2 separate regions of the Homo sapiens genome follow, and region 2 is linked to region 1. Evidence: fine-mapped expression QTL. Tissue or cell type: unexposed skin. Region 1 holds a variant in brackets; the other region holds the start of a gene. All regions are shown on one strand. Distances are between the middles of the regions.

Region 1 (8,348 bases):
GAGGCAGGAGAATCACTTGAACCCGGGAGGGAGAGGTTGCAGTGAGCCAAGACTGCACCACTGCACTCCAGCCTGGGTAACAGAGCAAGACTCCATCTCAAAATATATAAATAAAATAATAAAGTACCAGTATTTTGGTACATAAAAAAATGGTATAAACTAAACTGATCTTGCAATCTCTATTAATCCATTCATCCCCTCTTAGAAATATAGTTCCACAAGTTGCTCATAGCTTTTCATCTTAAGATGAAAATTAATTTTATTTGTTTGTTATATTTGTAAGTCTATAGTCATTTGATGAGATGAAACGTTTTTAAAACTCAGATTTGGCCGGGCATGGTGGTTTACACCTGTAATCCTAGCACTTTGGGAGGCTGAGGTGGGCAGATAGCTTGAGCCCAGGAGTTCAAGACCAGCCTGGGCAACACAGTGGGACCCCTGTCTACAAAAAATACAAAAATTATCTGGGCATGGTGGTACACACCTGTAGCTCCAGCTACTCAAGAAGCTGAGTTGGGAGGATCACCTGAGTCTGAGGAAACTGAGGCCGCAGTGAGCCACGATCACGCCACTCTACTCTAGCCTGGGTGACAGAGCAAGATCCTGTCTTAAAAATAGATCAATAAATTGGCCGGGTTCGGTGGCTCACGCCTGTAATCCAACACTGGGAGGCCAAGGTGGGTGGATCACTTGAGGTCAGGAGTTCGAGACCAGCCTGACCAACATGGTGAAACCCTGTCTCTACTAAAAATACAAAAAAAAAAAAAAAAAAATCTGGGCATGGTGGTGCATGCTTGTAATACCAGCTACTGGGAGGTTGAGGCAGGAGAATCGCTTCAACCCAGGAGGCAGAGGTTGCAGTGAGCTGAGATGGCGCCATTGCACTCAAGCCTGGGCAACAAGAGTGAAACTCTGTCTCCAAAAAAATAGATAAATAAAATAAAAGTAAATAAATAAATAAAACTCAGATTTGGTTCATACACATCTTCTGCTAGCCCACCCTCAATATCTCCAGTTGCAAGGCATAGGAGGTTCCCCATCTCCTGCCCTACCTCTTCAGCCATCCCTAAGCTCCCCTCACACCTAGCACTTCTGAATATGATTAAAAAGCACATGACAGCCTTCTGCCTTGGTGCCTTTGCTCACTGTGCCCGCTCCCTCTGCACTGTTGGTGTCTGCCTGGTTGGCACCTCTGATCTTTCACTCTCTTTCTATAGCAGCACCTCTTCTATGAAATCCCTCCTGCCTCCTGCCCCTGCCGCCCCAACAGGATAGGTTTCTTCATTTCTATCCCCCTACAAATTTCCATGACACTCCACAGGTGGGGAGTGCCTAAAGGGCCAGAAAATGATTCTCTTTCTTCTAGGCAGATCTCCCTCTCCACCGTGGATTCTGGGCAGCTCCTGTCACTTGCTCTGGCCAGTGAAAAATCAAATATGTTACAGAAGATGCTTTCAAAGTGCATGAGCACTGGGCTTAGTCTCTTGTTGCTTTTCAGAATCCTCCAACTCCCATGTGAAAAAATCCAGGTTAGCCTGCTGGATGATGAGCGACACATGGCCCAGTCACCCACTCCCATCTTACTGGTTGAGCCTACCAACCACCAGATATGGGACTGAGGTCATAAGAAATAGTCCAGCCACCAGCCAAGCTGCCAAATGACCATAAGATACATAAGAGAAATCAGCAGAGATCAGTTGAGCTGGCTCAGAACTATACAACTAATCCTCAGAATCATGAGTTAAATAAAAATGGTTGTTTTAAACTACCAAATTTTGAAGTGTTTGTTACACAGCAAGTGGTAACTGATACACCCTACATAATATTTGATTAAACTTATTCATTTACTTATCTTCCTATTCAATAGTGAGTACCTTGAAAGTAGGAATTTTGTGTTTTATTTATCTTTGGATCCATAGCATCTACCACTGGGTATAGAACATGGTAGGAGCTCAATAAATGTTGAGCTCAATAAGTGTTCATTAGGTCCCTAAGTGAATGAATATAAAAATATTTTACTCAACTAGCTTCCTATTGATTAGGTGGGTTATTATGCAAAGATGAAAGACAGCTCTAATGCTTGCTACTTTTCTCCTAAATTTCTAGATTTTATTTCCTACACAAGATCTAAGAAATTGAGGGAGAATAGTCTCAGTGATTTTGGTAGTGCTTTTGGCCACCCTGCTCCATGTCACTGGGTGTTCCAATGTCATTGGCCAGGGACACCACAGGAAAAGCTGCTGCAGTCATTGGTGCATTGGCTTAGAAAGTTCATTTCTCCACTTGCCTCCTTCAGACCCCTGGACCCTTCCCAAATACCAGCTCCCCTCAGTTCGCAAGTGCTTCGAGTTGGTGCCATTGACCTTGACTCAGACCCAGCCACTCCATAGAGCACTGCTGCCATCTGTCCCACAGACCATGGAGAGGACTTGAGGCAACAAGTCACGATGTTTGGCCCTGCAGTGCCTCCAATCAAGCCTTTGGCTATTTGGCCCAGCTCGTTAGGACAGGGAAATGGGTCACCCCCTTTCAGACTCTCTCAATTTTACTAACTTAAAGAGATGTCAGAAGCAACAAACCCTTGTTTTGAAAATGAGTGATTTTGTTTATCTTTTTTTTTTTTTTTTTTGAGACAGGGTCTCACTCTGTCACCTAGGCTGGAATACAATGGTGCCATCATAGCTCACTGAAACCTTGACTTGCCAGGCTCAGATGATTCTCTCACCTCAGCCTCCCGAGTAGATGGGATTACAGGGGCACACCACTACATCTGGCTGATTTTTGTATTTTTTATAGTAGAGATGGGGTTTCACTGTGTTGCCCAGGCTGGTCTCGAACTCCTGAGCTCAAGTGATCCACCGGCCTCAGCCTCCCAAAGTGCTGGGATTACAGGCATGAGTCACCTTGCCTGGCTCTTGATTATTTTTATCTTAATCCCTTAGGAGAAAAACAAACTGTTGTTTTGAGTAGTACAGAAATAAGATTTAAGGATATTGCAGGCCGGGCGCGGTGGCTCACGCCTGCAATCCCAGCACTTTGGGAGGCCGAGGCGGGTGGATCACAAGATCAGGAGTTCAAGACAAGCCTGGCCCAAATGGTGAAACCCCATCTCTACTAAATATATACAAAAATTAGCTGGGTGTGGTGGCAGGCGCCTGTAATCCCAGCTACTCAGGAGGCTGAGGAAGGAGAAT[C/G]ACTTGAACCCGAGAGGTGGAGGTTGCGGTGAGCCAATATCATGCCACTGCACTCCAGCCTGGGTGACAGAATAAGGCTCCGTTTCAAAAAAAAAAGAAAAAAAGAAAAAAAAAAGAATATTACAAAAAGCAGACCAGGCGTGGTGGCTCATGCCTGTAATCCCAGCACTTTGGGAGGCTGAGGCGGGCAGATCACAAGGTCAGGAGTTCGAGACCACCCTGGCTAACACAGTGAAACTCCGTTTCTACTAAATACAAAACAATTAGCCGGGCGTGGTGGCGGGCGCCTGTAGTCCCAGCTACTTGGGAGGCTGAGGCAAGAGAATGGTGTGAACCCGGGAGGCAGAGCTTGCAGTGAGCTGAGATAGCACCACTGCAGTCCAGCCTGGGCGACAGAGCGAGATTCCGTCTCAAAAAAAAAAAAAAAAAAGAATATTGCAAAAAGCTTTGAATTTCGATGTGATTAGTTCAAGTGGAGTTTTATTCCTTCATGAAGGTTGCTGAACACATTTTTTTTTAAGGACCTGCTATGGGTCATACTGATATCGTATTGCTTGGTCAGTCCTAAGACTTCTGTTTTACTGTGAATGCTGGTCAGCTGTACCTGAATTCCAAAGGGAGGTGAGTAATGAGGCATTCCCCATCCTCCCCCTTTCTTATTATGGCCTGAGCTAGAATTTCAGATGAACTCTGGAGTGCCCTTGGCCAAAAGGAGCAGTCCATTCAGTCGGTTGGGGGACTTAGAATTTTATTTTTGGTTTCCAGTGTTTTTCCCAACCACCAAGTAGCAGACAGCAGCTATGTGCCTTCAATTCAGTCCCCACACTCTCTACCTAGGGATAGCATCAGATCTTGTTGACAAAAAGAGTCAAACTCTGTAAAATATTTGGATAGATTTATTCTGAGCCAAATGTGACAATGGCCCATGACACAGCCTCAGGAAATCCTGAGAACATGTGCCCCCACATTTCTTATTTGAATCTTTACATATGCTAGAACAGATGAACAAAGATGCTTAAGTAATTTTCCTGGCAACATATAAATATAAAGCAAAGCAATGGATGTAGTTTATTGAAAATGTTTGCACTAAGTATGTATTTCCATTGATTAAAAGCCTTGTCTGAGGTGGTTGGCACAAGGGGAAATAGCTAGGCTGTGTTCATCTCAAACATTCAATACATGTAGCATTCAAAACACTTTAATAGTTAACCACCTCTTCCTCCTTGTCTCGGCCCCTCAAAGTGCTGAGATCAAAGGTGCGAACCACCGCATCCAGCCTAAAATCTCCCTTTGATGGATCGCATTAACTATTTAAAAACGTTTTCTCTAATATATGCTACTTATCTAAATCACAGTCTCCAGATTTAGAGAATTCTATTCAAAGAGAAGGGTGTCCCCATAGCCTTACATAGCAAATAGCAAGATTAGACCTCTAAGAATTTCAACTAATTAAATTATTAACTATAAAATAGCCGGGTGTGGTGGCTCACGCCTGCAATCCCAGCACTTTGGGAGGCGGGTGGATCACGAGGTCAAGAGTTCAAGACCAGCCTGGCCAAGATGGTGAAACCCCGTCTCTACTAAAAATACAATAATTAGCAGGGTGTGGTGGCAGGTACCGGTAATCCCAGCTACTCGGGAGGCTGAGGCAGGGGAATTGCTTGAACCCAGGTGGCAGAGGCTGCAGTGAGTGGAGATCACACCACTACACTCCAGCCTAGGCGACAGAGTGAGACTCCATCTCAAAGAAACAAACAAACAAACAAAAAAACTTAAAATTAGCCAAGTGTGGTGGCACATGCCTGTAATCTCAGCTACTCAGGGGGCTGAGGCAGGAGAATCGCTTGAACCTGGGAGGCAGAGGCTGCAGTGAGCCGAGATTGCGCCACTGCACTCCAGCCTGGGCAACAGAGTGAGTCTCTCTCAAAAAATTTAAAAAGGGAGATTTTAGATAAATATTTTCTTCCTTTAATAACACTGATATCCAAAACCTCTTTAAAGATACAATCTTGCCGAGCGCAGTGGCTCACGCCTATAATCCTAGTGCTTTGGGAGGCCGAGGCGGGCAGACCGTGAGGTCAGGAGTTTGAGACCAGCCTGGCCAACATGGTGAAACCCCATCTCTACTGAAAATACAAAAAGTAGCTGGGCATGGTGGTGGGTGCCTGTAATCCCAGCTATTCAGGGGGCTGAGGCAGGAGAACTGCTTGAACCCAGGAGGTGGAGGTTGCAGTGAGACGAGATCAGGCCACTGCATTCCAGCCTGGGAGACTGAGCTAGACTCCGTCTCAAAAATAAAATAAAATAAAAATAAAGATACAATCTTCACTGACTGATACAGCTCCGATGAGTGGAGGAACACCACCAGGGCTCTTGTCTCCCACGAATTGGGTAAAACGACATGGACACACATGGAGTGGTTTTAAGGAGTGGAAAGTTTAATAGGCAAGAAAGAAGGAAGAAGCTCCCCCATTCAGTGACAGTCAGAGGGGACTCCAAATCCAAGAGAGGAGACCCCATGTGCCACAGAAAAGTGGCTGCTTATATGAGTAGGCTGGAGGAGGTGGTGTCTGATTTGCATAGGGCTCAGGGGATTGGTTTGACCAGGGATGTCATTCACCTAGCCAGCAAAAAAACTGGCCCTCCGACCCTAGCCTTTTAATATACAAGGCGTCAGGATGTTGTACCCACGTGGGGATATGTGAGGGCGGCCATATTGTCAGGCACAGGTCAGGGCAAGGGCAAGGAGAAGAGGGCGGAAATCGCCTTGTTTGGCTGGACTCAGTTTCTAATGGCTTGCATTTGCATATCAAAGGTTGCCACTTGGCTCTAAGAGCTGGGGCTTTCCTGCTAGACAAGAAACGTTTCAGCCAGGGGTGGTGGCTCACGCCTGTAATCCCAGCACTTTAGGAGGCTGAGGGGGCTGGATCACCTCTGGTCAGGAGTTCCGACCAGCCTGGCCAACATGGTGAAACCCCGTCTCCACTAAAAATACAAAAAATTAGCCAGGCATGGTGGCGGTTGCCTGTAATCCCAGCTACTCGGGAGGCTGAGGCAGGAGAATCGCTTGAAGCCGGGAGGTGTCGGTTGCAGTGAGCCAAGATCGAACCATTGTACTCCAACCTGGGCCACAGAGCAGGACTCTGTCTCCAAAAAAAAAAAAGTTTATGGAGCTGCTTTAAAAGAAACAACTTTCCAAGGACCCCTTTTCTTCTCTATCTGCCTAAAATAATTTCTTAATAACTCACACAACATTACGATAATTGTTGTCACATGATATAAGCTTCAATTATTTCATAACACTGGTCCTGTCCTTCTTTCAAAACATCATAGCTGACTCAACACTAGATGGGTAAGAAATGCTATATTTTGCTTCCCTGATTCTCAAAACTATAAAAAAGATACAACTTTGAAAAGTTTCATAGAGTAGGCTGGGAAACACTGATGTCACGTTGCAGAAAAATCTAGGCTCTGAAATAACACCACGTCCCACCCAACCCAACCCCACCCTGTTTTCCCTTATCTCTGATAGCTGAGTGATTATGTTAGCAAAAAGCAAGAGGATTTTAAAATTGAATGTGCCTCCCAAGAGCTCTCAGTGTACCAGGGCTGACTTTTAATATTATTAAGGCTGGAGTGGTGGCTCATGCCTGTAATTCCAGCACTTTGGGAGGCTGAGGCAGGCAGATCACAAAGTCAAGAGTTGGAGACCAGCCTGGCCAACATTGTGAAACCTCGTCTCTACTATAAATACAAAAATTAGCCGGGCATGGTGGCGCGTGCTTGTAGTAATAATATAGACTCCGTCGCAAAAACCATACATATATATATATATATAATTTAAATATTAACATTTTAATATTAAAATTTCTGAAGATGATTCAGCTCCTTATAGAAAAGGATCCAAGTAAAGCCAGGCTGTTTTCCACCTCCTATTGGAGGACATCTTAGCAAGACAATAGATTGTTGTGGGGTTTTGGCTCCATAGTTTGGGGAAGTAGCTTAGGATGAATGTTTGGCATCACCCAGTCTTACAGATGGTCACAGCTTGAAAGAGCTTGCTCAGATCCTCGTGCATTCAGGTTCTAGCTGGATGTGGCAGAGCATGATTCAGGCTTTCTTCTTCTCACAAACATTTTCAGATAGATATAGCAGTTTGGCAACCAGGTATTCTATCACAACTGCTTGATAACTGAAAGCCAAACAGCTAGTTCTCTAAGTATGGTTGCCATTTCTCAAGTGCTTGTGAAGCTAGCCCAAAGGAAACTGCAAATCAGCCCTGGTACGCTGAGAGCTCTTGGGAAGAGCATTCATTTTTAAAATCCTTTTGCTTTTGCTAACATAATGGCTAAGCTATCAGAGATAAGGAAAAACAGGGTGGAGTTGGGTTGGGTGGGATGTGGTGTTATTTCAGAGCCTAGATTTTTCTGCAACGTGACATCAGTGTTTCCCAGCCTACTCTATCAAACTTTACAAAGTTGTAGCTTTTTTATAGTTTTGAGAATCAGGGAAGCAAAATATAGCATTTTCTTACCCATCTAGTGTTGAGTCAGCTATGATGCTTTGAAAGAAGGATAGGACCAGGGTTATATAGAACCTAACTAGGGCCCACTTGCCCGGCACGGTAAGACCAGATAACTGCACAATGGTTTGCAGCAGAAGAAAGGAAGATATTTATTTGCAGGGCACCATGCAAGAAGGATGAGGCAGCTAATGCTTAAATCCTGACTTCCTTGATGGCTTGCAGGTGTCAATGAAAAGAGTCAGACTCTGTAAAATATTTAAGGAGGTGTATTCGGAGCCAAATATGAGTGACCAAAGCCCAAGGCAGAGTCTGGAGAGAACTTGTGCCCAAGGTGATTGGATTACAGCTTGGTTTTTATGCATTCTATGGAGACAATAAGACACTAATCAATACGTATGGGGTATACATTGCATTGGTTCCATCCAGAAAGGCAGGACAAAGTCTAAGTGGGTAGGGGGAGGGGAGGGGCATAGGTGGATTTAAAGATTTTCTGATTGACAATTGGTTGAAAGAGTTAAGTTATTGTCTAAAGACCTGGAATCAACAGAAAGAATTGTCTGCATCAAGATAAGGAGTTGCAAGGCCAGGCGCGGTGGCTCGTGCCTGTAATCCCAGCACTTTGGGAGGCC
Region 2 (8,000 bases), 27 kb after region 1:
TCTCATAAGCTGTAATTATTTTCTCCACAGCCAAGAAGGATGGAAAGATGAAAGAAGTCCCTGAGGGAGGTGAGAGGATCTGGAGCACAGGTGGAAAGAATAACAAAAGAATAATTTTGACAAAAGCAAGAGGGATGGGGCTGGGCGTGGTGGCTCACGCCTGTAATCCCAGCACTTTGGGAGGCTGAGGCTGGCAGATCACGAGGTCAGGAAATCAAGACCATCCTGGCTAACACAGTGAAACCCTGCCTCTACTAAAAATACAAAAAATTAGCCGGGCGTGGTGGCAGGCGCCTGTAGTCCCAGCTACTCGGGAGGCTGAGGCAGGAGAATCATTTGAACCCGGGAGGCGGAGCTTGCAGTGAGCCGAGACTGCGCCACTGCACTCCAGCCTGGGTGACAGAGCGAGACTCTGTCTCGGAAAAAAAAAAAAAAAAAAAAAAAAAGAAAGCCAATCACTGGGATGACAAGTATTCCCAAGGAAGAAGCCTTTAATTGGGTGCTGCAGCCGAGGAGACAAGGAGACGAGACAGGAGATCAGTCTCAAATCCATCTCCCCGACTGACTAAAACTAGGGGTTTATATAGCAGGGAAGAAATGTAACATGGTGTAAGAAAACAAGAAGAGGGAAGGGCAAGGATGCATCTGGTGAGGTCATCTGTTGAGTTTCAGTTCTTTGATACTTTTTCTGAGAGGCCTGAAGGTCCTTTCCTAAGGAAGAAACTCAGATTAAACAGATACAAGTTTCAAGCTTTAACAGCAGAAGGGTCAATGTCTATGTTTATCCAAAAACAACTGTCTGTGGGACTATTGGGCCAGATTTCATAACTACTGTCTTTCCCAATAATCTATATTATTGTTAAAACAAAACTTTAAGAATGCTTTTGTTCTTGGCTGGGCGTGGTAGCTCACACCTGTAATCCCAGCACTCTGGCTCACGCCTGTAATCCCAGCACTTTGGGATGAGGAGCTCAGGAGTTCGAGACCAGCCTGACCAAAATGGCGAAACCCTGTCTCTACTAAAAATACAAAACTTAGCCCGGCGTGGTGGTGCATGCCTGTAATCCCACGTACTTGGGAGGCTGAGGCAGGAGAATCACTTGAACCCAGGAGGGGGAGGCTGCAGTGAGCTGAGATCTTGCCATTGCACTCCAGGGTGGGGAACAAAGAGAGACTCTCAAAAAAACAAAACAAGGCCAGGTGCGGTGGCTCACACCTTTAATCCCAGCACTTTGGGAGGCCAAGGCAGGTGGATCACCTGAGGTCAGGAGTTCGAGACCAGCCTGGCTAACACAGTGAAACCCCGTCTCTACTACAAATACAAAAAAAAAAAATTAGCCAGGCGTGGTGGCGCGCACCTGTAATCCCAGCTATTCGGAAGCTGAGGCAGGAGAATCGCTTGAACCCAGGAGGTGGAAATTGCAGTGAGCCGAGATCACGCCATTGCACTCCAGCTTGGGCAACAAGAGTGAAACTCCATCTCAAAAAAAAGAAAGAAAAAAGAAAGCTTTCAGGACACCAGGCCATTTCCTGGGTCTGTTGTCTTAGGTCTGTTTGGTAAATATTCTGTGACTAAGCATGCGTAACCTTCTGGGAATACAACCCAGTAGGTCTCAGCCTCCTTTTCCCCATCCCCTATTCAGGATGGATTGGCTTTGGTTAGAATGCCTCTGACCGGATCATGTGGGGAAGAGCAACTGTAGAATAGCTGAGTCCTGGAAAACAGGCCTCAGGGAACAGCAAAGGCTGGGGATGAGGAAAGGACAAAACACCACCTGCTCTGTTGCTGTGCAGGACTGAGCAAGAAGCACAGGATCAAACTCAAAGTTAGTTCCAGTCCTGATTTTGGTGGTAAGACCCAAGGAAAATTCATTAACAAACATTGTGCTGCCAGATACATTAATAAATCCCTAAAAGGGCCTGTAATTCAGTTGAAATGAGTGAGAAAAATCTTAAGGATCCTTATAAATTAAATAAAAACTCCTTGCTCTCAAGCAATCATTTGATTCACTCTATATCAACGACTGTGCACTTTAGCATCACCTGAGGATCTTTAAGAAAGTATCTGTGCTAGGCCTCATTTCCAAGGATTTAATTTGTCTGGGGATGGAGCCCCAGGACATTCCTAGTTTTTGAGGGCTTCCAGGTGATTCTAATGCATAGCCACGGTTGGAAGCCCTGCGCCTATCTCACAGGTGTGTGGGTCTCTACTCTCTGTGTCCGCTTAGTTGCCAGGAGGCAGCAAGTTAGCCCACGTGTGCAAGATGCTTCCTTCCATACCAGGTAGGAATATTGCTCTCTTAAACTTGGAGTGTGCCTGGGCAGAAGCTCTGGAGCCCAATACCTGCATTTTACAAGTCAGATTGCTGCTTTTTGCTCAGTGCCTGTGTGCCTGCATACATGGGTCTCCTGATACTCAGGCACGGCAGATGACTTTCACCTTTGTTTTAGTGTTTTGCTCACTGCTGCATCTGCAGAGCCTAGAATGGTGCCTGGTACACAGCAGGCTCTCAATGTCTTATTAATGAGTTGCCTTTTCCAAGGCTGAAGTGATCGTGGGTGAATTCCAGAAGACCCTGCATCATTTTTATTTATTTATTTATTTAAGACGGAGTCTCGCTCTGTAACCCAGGCTGGAGTGCAGTGGAGAGATCTCAGCTCACTGCAAGCTCCGCCTCCCCCGTTCAAGCAATTCTTCTGCCTCAGCCTCCAGAGTAGCTGGGATTACAGGCAACCACCACTACGCCCGGCTAATTTTTTTGTATTTTTAGTAGAGACGGGGTTTCACCATGTTGGCCAGGCTGATCTCGAACTCCTGACCTCAAGTGATCCGCCCGCCTCGGCCTGGGATCACAGGCGTGTGCCACCGCGCCCGGCCTAGAGGCAATTTTCTATTTCTGACTTGTTAGGCTAGTCAGAGCGAGACGTCTTTACAGGTTTGGGCCGGCAGCTGGAAAAGGCACACGGCCCCGGGCTCCTCCTCCACCCAGCCCCACCCCTCCTCCGCTGAAGACCAGCCCTAATAAGGCAGCCACCAGAATTAGAACCAGGTCAAGTGCACTCCGAGCAGGACAGTAGGCAGATCCTATCTGGCGCATGCGAACGCTTCTGTGCCAGTTCCTTGAAGAGCAGGCGCAGACTCAAGGCTGTTGCTTCCGCCCTTACTCCCCGCCGCTCGTCCCTGGGCGGGGCGAAGGCTGGGCTGGGGGAAGAGGCGTGGCGGCGCTGTGCGCGTGCACAAAAGAGAGCTGAGGGGCGGGGGCGCTGCGGCACAGCTGGTTTGAGCAACTGAACTGGAAACAAGATGCAGGTGAGCTAGGACGGGTCTCGGGTCTGGGGGCTGCGGCCCGTTCCTTTGTCTCGTTAGGCCCGGGCGGGCAGTGGACGCCCGCCCTGGGGGAAGCTCCGGCGCCGCAGGCACGAGGGAGGCCCGGCGCGTCCAGGCCCTGCGCAGGCGCAGTGCGGGAGGCGGGCGTGGTCCCACCAGGACCCACGGCCTGGGCGTCCCCGCCTCGGTGTGCCGGGTCCCCCAAACCTCGTCCTCCGGGACTATGTCTTCTCGCGGTCTCTACCCACCCGGGCCTGTGAAGGTCTTGCCGGATCCCGCCTAACAAAAGTTACCTCCTCTCCTGAACTCCCCTAAGGCACACCTGGGCAGAGGTGTTAGGAAGCGGAGGGTCCGGCCTGGGGTCTTCCGCACGTAAAGCAGCGCCACAGCCGGTGTTCCTGGCTCCACTGAGAGCCAGGTGAGGGCTTAGTTACACCCTCTTCCCCCGAGCCCTGGGATCCGCTTGGGGCGTGTTCCCTATCTGACCGCTCGGGTTCCAGAGCTCCCCGCGAGGGTCCCTCTGTTTCGTCCTTTTTTTTTTTTTTATTAAAATAGGTAAAATAAATTATTTTTCTGTAGCTGCAATTTACTAGCGGAATTTGGTTAAAGCCTAAGGAGAATGAATGAAAACACCATGGAAATGGGCACTATTGTGGGTGAAAACCTATGCCAACTAAATTTTGTCACTGTCCAAAGATCCCGCAGTGGTCAGAAATTCTAATCTCTGCTTAGTGGCAGATGGAGAGGAGAGGGTGCGGGTTTTGCTGGGGAGGGAGGCATTAGGGGCTGGAGGGGAGGGCGTGTCTGCCAGGAGCCAGACACTGTTTTTTTTTTTTTTGAGACCGGGTCTTGCTCTGTTGCCCAGGCTGGAGTGCAGTGGCTCTGTCACAGCTCACTGCAACCTCGACCTCCCGGGGCTAAGCCATCCTCCCTTGTCAGCCTCCGGAGTAGCTGGGACCACAGGCGTGCACCCACCACTCTGGGCTAATTTTTTGTGCAGATGGGGTCTCCCTATGTTGCCCAGCCTCAGCCTCCCAAAGTGTTGGGATTACAGGATGAGCCACCGCACCTGGCCTAGACACTCTTAAATGGTGAAGTGGTAGCTTGAGGGCTGCCCTGGCCTCCTTTGCATTCCCTGTCCTTCAGGTCCCTTGAGGCCTTCCCTGACCACCCTGTAGAAAGGATTCTGCTCTTTTTGTTTGTTTGTTTGTTTGTTTCTTTTTGAGACAGAGTCTTGCTCTGTCGCCCAGGCTGGAGTGCAGTGGCGCGACCTCGGCTCACTGCAAGCTCCGCCTCTCCAGTTCACGCCATTCTCCTGCCTCAGCCTCCTGAGTAGCTGGGACTACAGGCGCCCGTCACCACTCCCGGGTAATTTTTTGTATTTTTAGTAGAGACAAGGTTTCACCATGTTAGCCAGAATTGTCTCGATCTCCTGACCTGGTGATCTGCCCGCCTAGGCCTTCCAAAGTGCTGGGATTATCGGCATGAGCCACCGCGCCCGGCCTCATTTTTCTTTTGATGTATCTCAGAACTGTTACACAGGGTTGGGGTTGGAGACCGATTATCCCGGTGCCCTTTTCACAGTGCTCCTGATTTCATATTCCAAAGCAAGCCTGAGCTCCATTAGCAGTGTTCTTGCCACACCATGCAAACCGGTGCTTGGGCAGCTGGGTTCTAGATCTAAGAGCCACTTTTACATCAGTCTTTGTGACAATGATCCTTTGTGATTTTGATGCTGGCTGATTTGGCCAGCCGTTCTAGCATGGCAGTGCCTCTAAATGCCGTGCCTCTCCTAGGCTTGTGAGGATTCAGGGACAAGGTACAAGAAAAAGGGCTTAGAGTGCCCTGTATTTTATGAGCTACTCTGAGACGTCTCAGCTTTTCCTCTCAGGTTTGGCCATTAGAGAATTCTGTCAGCCAAGCCTCATCTGCAGCCTGAGATCCTCAAAATGTCACAGTCTCTTTGCTCTTGGGCAGTATGCATGCCGCAGGCCGCTCTGCCTGGAAGATTATTTTCTTGATTACGGGCGTGCACCTGGCTAATTTTTGTGTTTTTAGTGGAGATGGGGTTTCACTATACTGGCCAGTCTGGTCTTTTAACTCCTGACCTCAGATGCTCCACCTGCCTTGGCCTCCCAAAGAGCTGGAATTACAGGCGTGAGCCACTCCACCCAGCCTGGAAGATTTTTTTTTTTTTTTTTGAGACAGAGTCTAGCTCTGTCGCCCAGGCTGGAGTGCAGCGGCTCGATCTCGGCTCACTGCAAGCTCCACCTCCCGGGTTCCTGCCACTCTCCTGCCTCAGCCTCCCGAGTAGCTGGGACTACAGGCGCCCGCCACCACGCCCGGCTAATTTTTTGTGTTTTTAGTAAAGACGGGGTTTCATCATGTTAGCCAGGATGCTCTCGATCTCCTGACCTTGTGATCCACCCACCTCTGCCTCCCAAAGTGCTGGGATTACAGGCGTGAGCCACCGTGCCCAGCCTGGAAGATTATTTGTAAGCCCCCAGACTCCTATCACAGATTGCTTTCCACCCTCAGACGGAATGTCACCTCCTCTGTAGGGAACATCCCTATCTACTCTGTGGAATGTGGGTCCTGGGTAATTCTCTAAAATGGCAGCCTGTTTGTCATTGCACTTGCCACAATTTTATCTCTCTATGTATAGTTTGTATATATACTTGTTTGTTGCCTGTCTCTTCCTCTTGTCTGTAACACAGGTGACTCTCGCATTCACCACTCTTCCCCATTGCCTACAATAATTTACATGTGGTAGATACTTCAGTTTTATCTGTTGAATGAATCACTCAGTCATTATTATTATTATTATTTTGAGACTGTGTCTTGCTCTGTCGCCCAGGCTGGAGTGCAGTGGCACGATCTCGGCTCACTGCAAGCTCCGCCTCCCGGGTTTATGCCATTCTCCTGCCTCAGCCTCCCAAGTAGCTGGGACTACAGGTGCCCGCCACCACGCTCGGCTAATTTTTTGTATTTTCAGTAGAGACGGGGTTTCACCGTGTTAGTCAGGATGGTCTCTATCTCCTGACCTCGTGATCCGCCTGCCTCAGCCTCCCAAAGTGCTGGGATTACAGGCGTGAGCCACTGTGCCCGGCACTCTCAGTCATTATTAAAAATATTGAACACATGCCAAGTCAGAGCCTTGGTATCCGTATTGATACTGATCTGCACTCCCTATCCTAATTTTTACCCCAAGAATAGCTCCTCCATTCAGGGAGGGGTAGACAGGAAAAACAAAACGGGGGCTATGGATCTTTTGACACTTTCTCAGAAATAGTTCACAGACTGGTGTGCATTCCTCCCTTCCTGTCACTTTTCCCATTTGGCCCCTTGCCCAACGTGGCACCCTACATACTAGACTTAGCACTCATGGTAACCTTGGTCCCGCTCTTCTAGGACCCCAACGCAGACACTGAATGGAATGACATCTTACGCAAAAAGGGTATCTTACCCCCCAAGGAAAGTCTGAAAGAATTGGAAGAGGAGGCAGAAGAGGAGCAGCGCATCCTCCAGCAGTCAGTGGGTGAGTTCACTCGCTTTCCTCTGCACCTGTCTGGGTTAGGAGATGGCTCCCTAAGCCTCTGACTGCCCTGCCAGGAGACAGGTTGGAGTGCCAGCATGGACACTCTGTGTCTGTGGGACCTCAGACAAAACACAGGGCGTCTCTCACCTTCACCTTCCTGAGCCATAGACTTAGGGGACTTCAGATATGTCCCACAAGTCCTTGTCCATGTCACATGAGCACTGAAGAAAATACTTCTTTCTGCTTTCTGGTCTGTGATTCCCTTTGATAATGTCATGGAAATTTGTTCAAGGTTTTTAGTACTTGTATTTTCCTGAGCATATACTTTATTTTCTGTGGTTTCATTGAGGATATTAACTAAAAATTGCTTCATTTGGGGAGGCATAAGATGTTTGCAATGTGTGGGAGTCTGAGGGGGGTTTTCTCAAAGGCAGTTGTACTGTCTGAATTGGAGTCCCTTGGAGTGCTGGTAACCCCACCCACCTAGTGTTTACTGAAGCAGTCTCTGGAATGAGGCCCAGGAATCTGCATTTTAAACAAGTGCCTTAAAGGATTCTGATGCGTGTCATAGTTTGAGAAGCACTGGTCCCAGGGACTAGTACTTTTGTCCTCTGTTGACACATTAGAGCTAATTTAGAGAAGGATTTATTAGAAAGTATCCAGCGAGTGCTTACTGCATGATTATCATTGTCAGGTGCTTTTCTGGGGTTGGGGATTTAGCTATGCATAAGCCAGAGACAATTCTCTGCCCTCAGAGAACCAACATTCAAGTGGGGGAGACAGACAATAAACAATAAAGAAAATAAGGCAGTAAAAGGGACTAGAAAGGGTTGGAGGAGAAGCAGGCTCAGAGAGGGCCTCACTGAGATGACATTTGCATGGACCTGAAGGAGGTGAAGCTGGCATTTGGGTAAAGACCTGAAGGAGCTGAAGAACACATTTGAATAGACCTGAGGGAGTTGTTGAGACCTGAAGGAGGTGAAGAAGACATCTGGGTATTCCTGAAGGGGGTGACGTGAGCGAGTGAAATATGGGCCCTGGCATGGCTGGGAATCCCTGAGGAGCTGGAGGCGCTGGGGGAGAGAGTTCAGAGCAGCCTCAGCAGACCCAGAAGCTTCTAGTAAGGACCTTGGC

What was found. PIP is the estimated chance that this variant, and not a neighbour inherited with it, causes the effect.
Region 2: PDCL3 starts here. The variant in region 1 is the best candidate, but not a certain one, in a credible set for the expression of PDCL3 in unexposed skin (GTEx, PIP 0.50).

Annotation. Positions count from the first base shown.
Region 1 is chr2:100,532,174-100,540,521 of GRCh38, forward strand. No RefSeq gene overlaps it. Among named protein-coding and RNA genes, the nearest start is that of PDCL3, 27 kb to the right of the region's middle. RefSeq lists an enhancer at 5,660-6,211. The variant C/G (reference allele first, on the strand shown) is at 3,195.
Region 2 is chr2:100,559,764-100,567,763 of GRCh38, forward strand. PDCL3 (phosducin like 3) reads left to right here and starts at 3,230. Exons shown (of 6, transcript NM_024065.5): 1 at 3,230-3,310; 2 at 6,740-6,866. The coding sequence starts at 3,305. RefSeq lists an enhancer at 1,975-2,771 and a silencer at 3,217-3,556.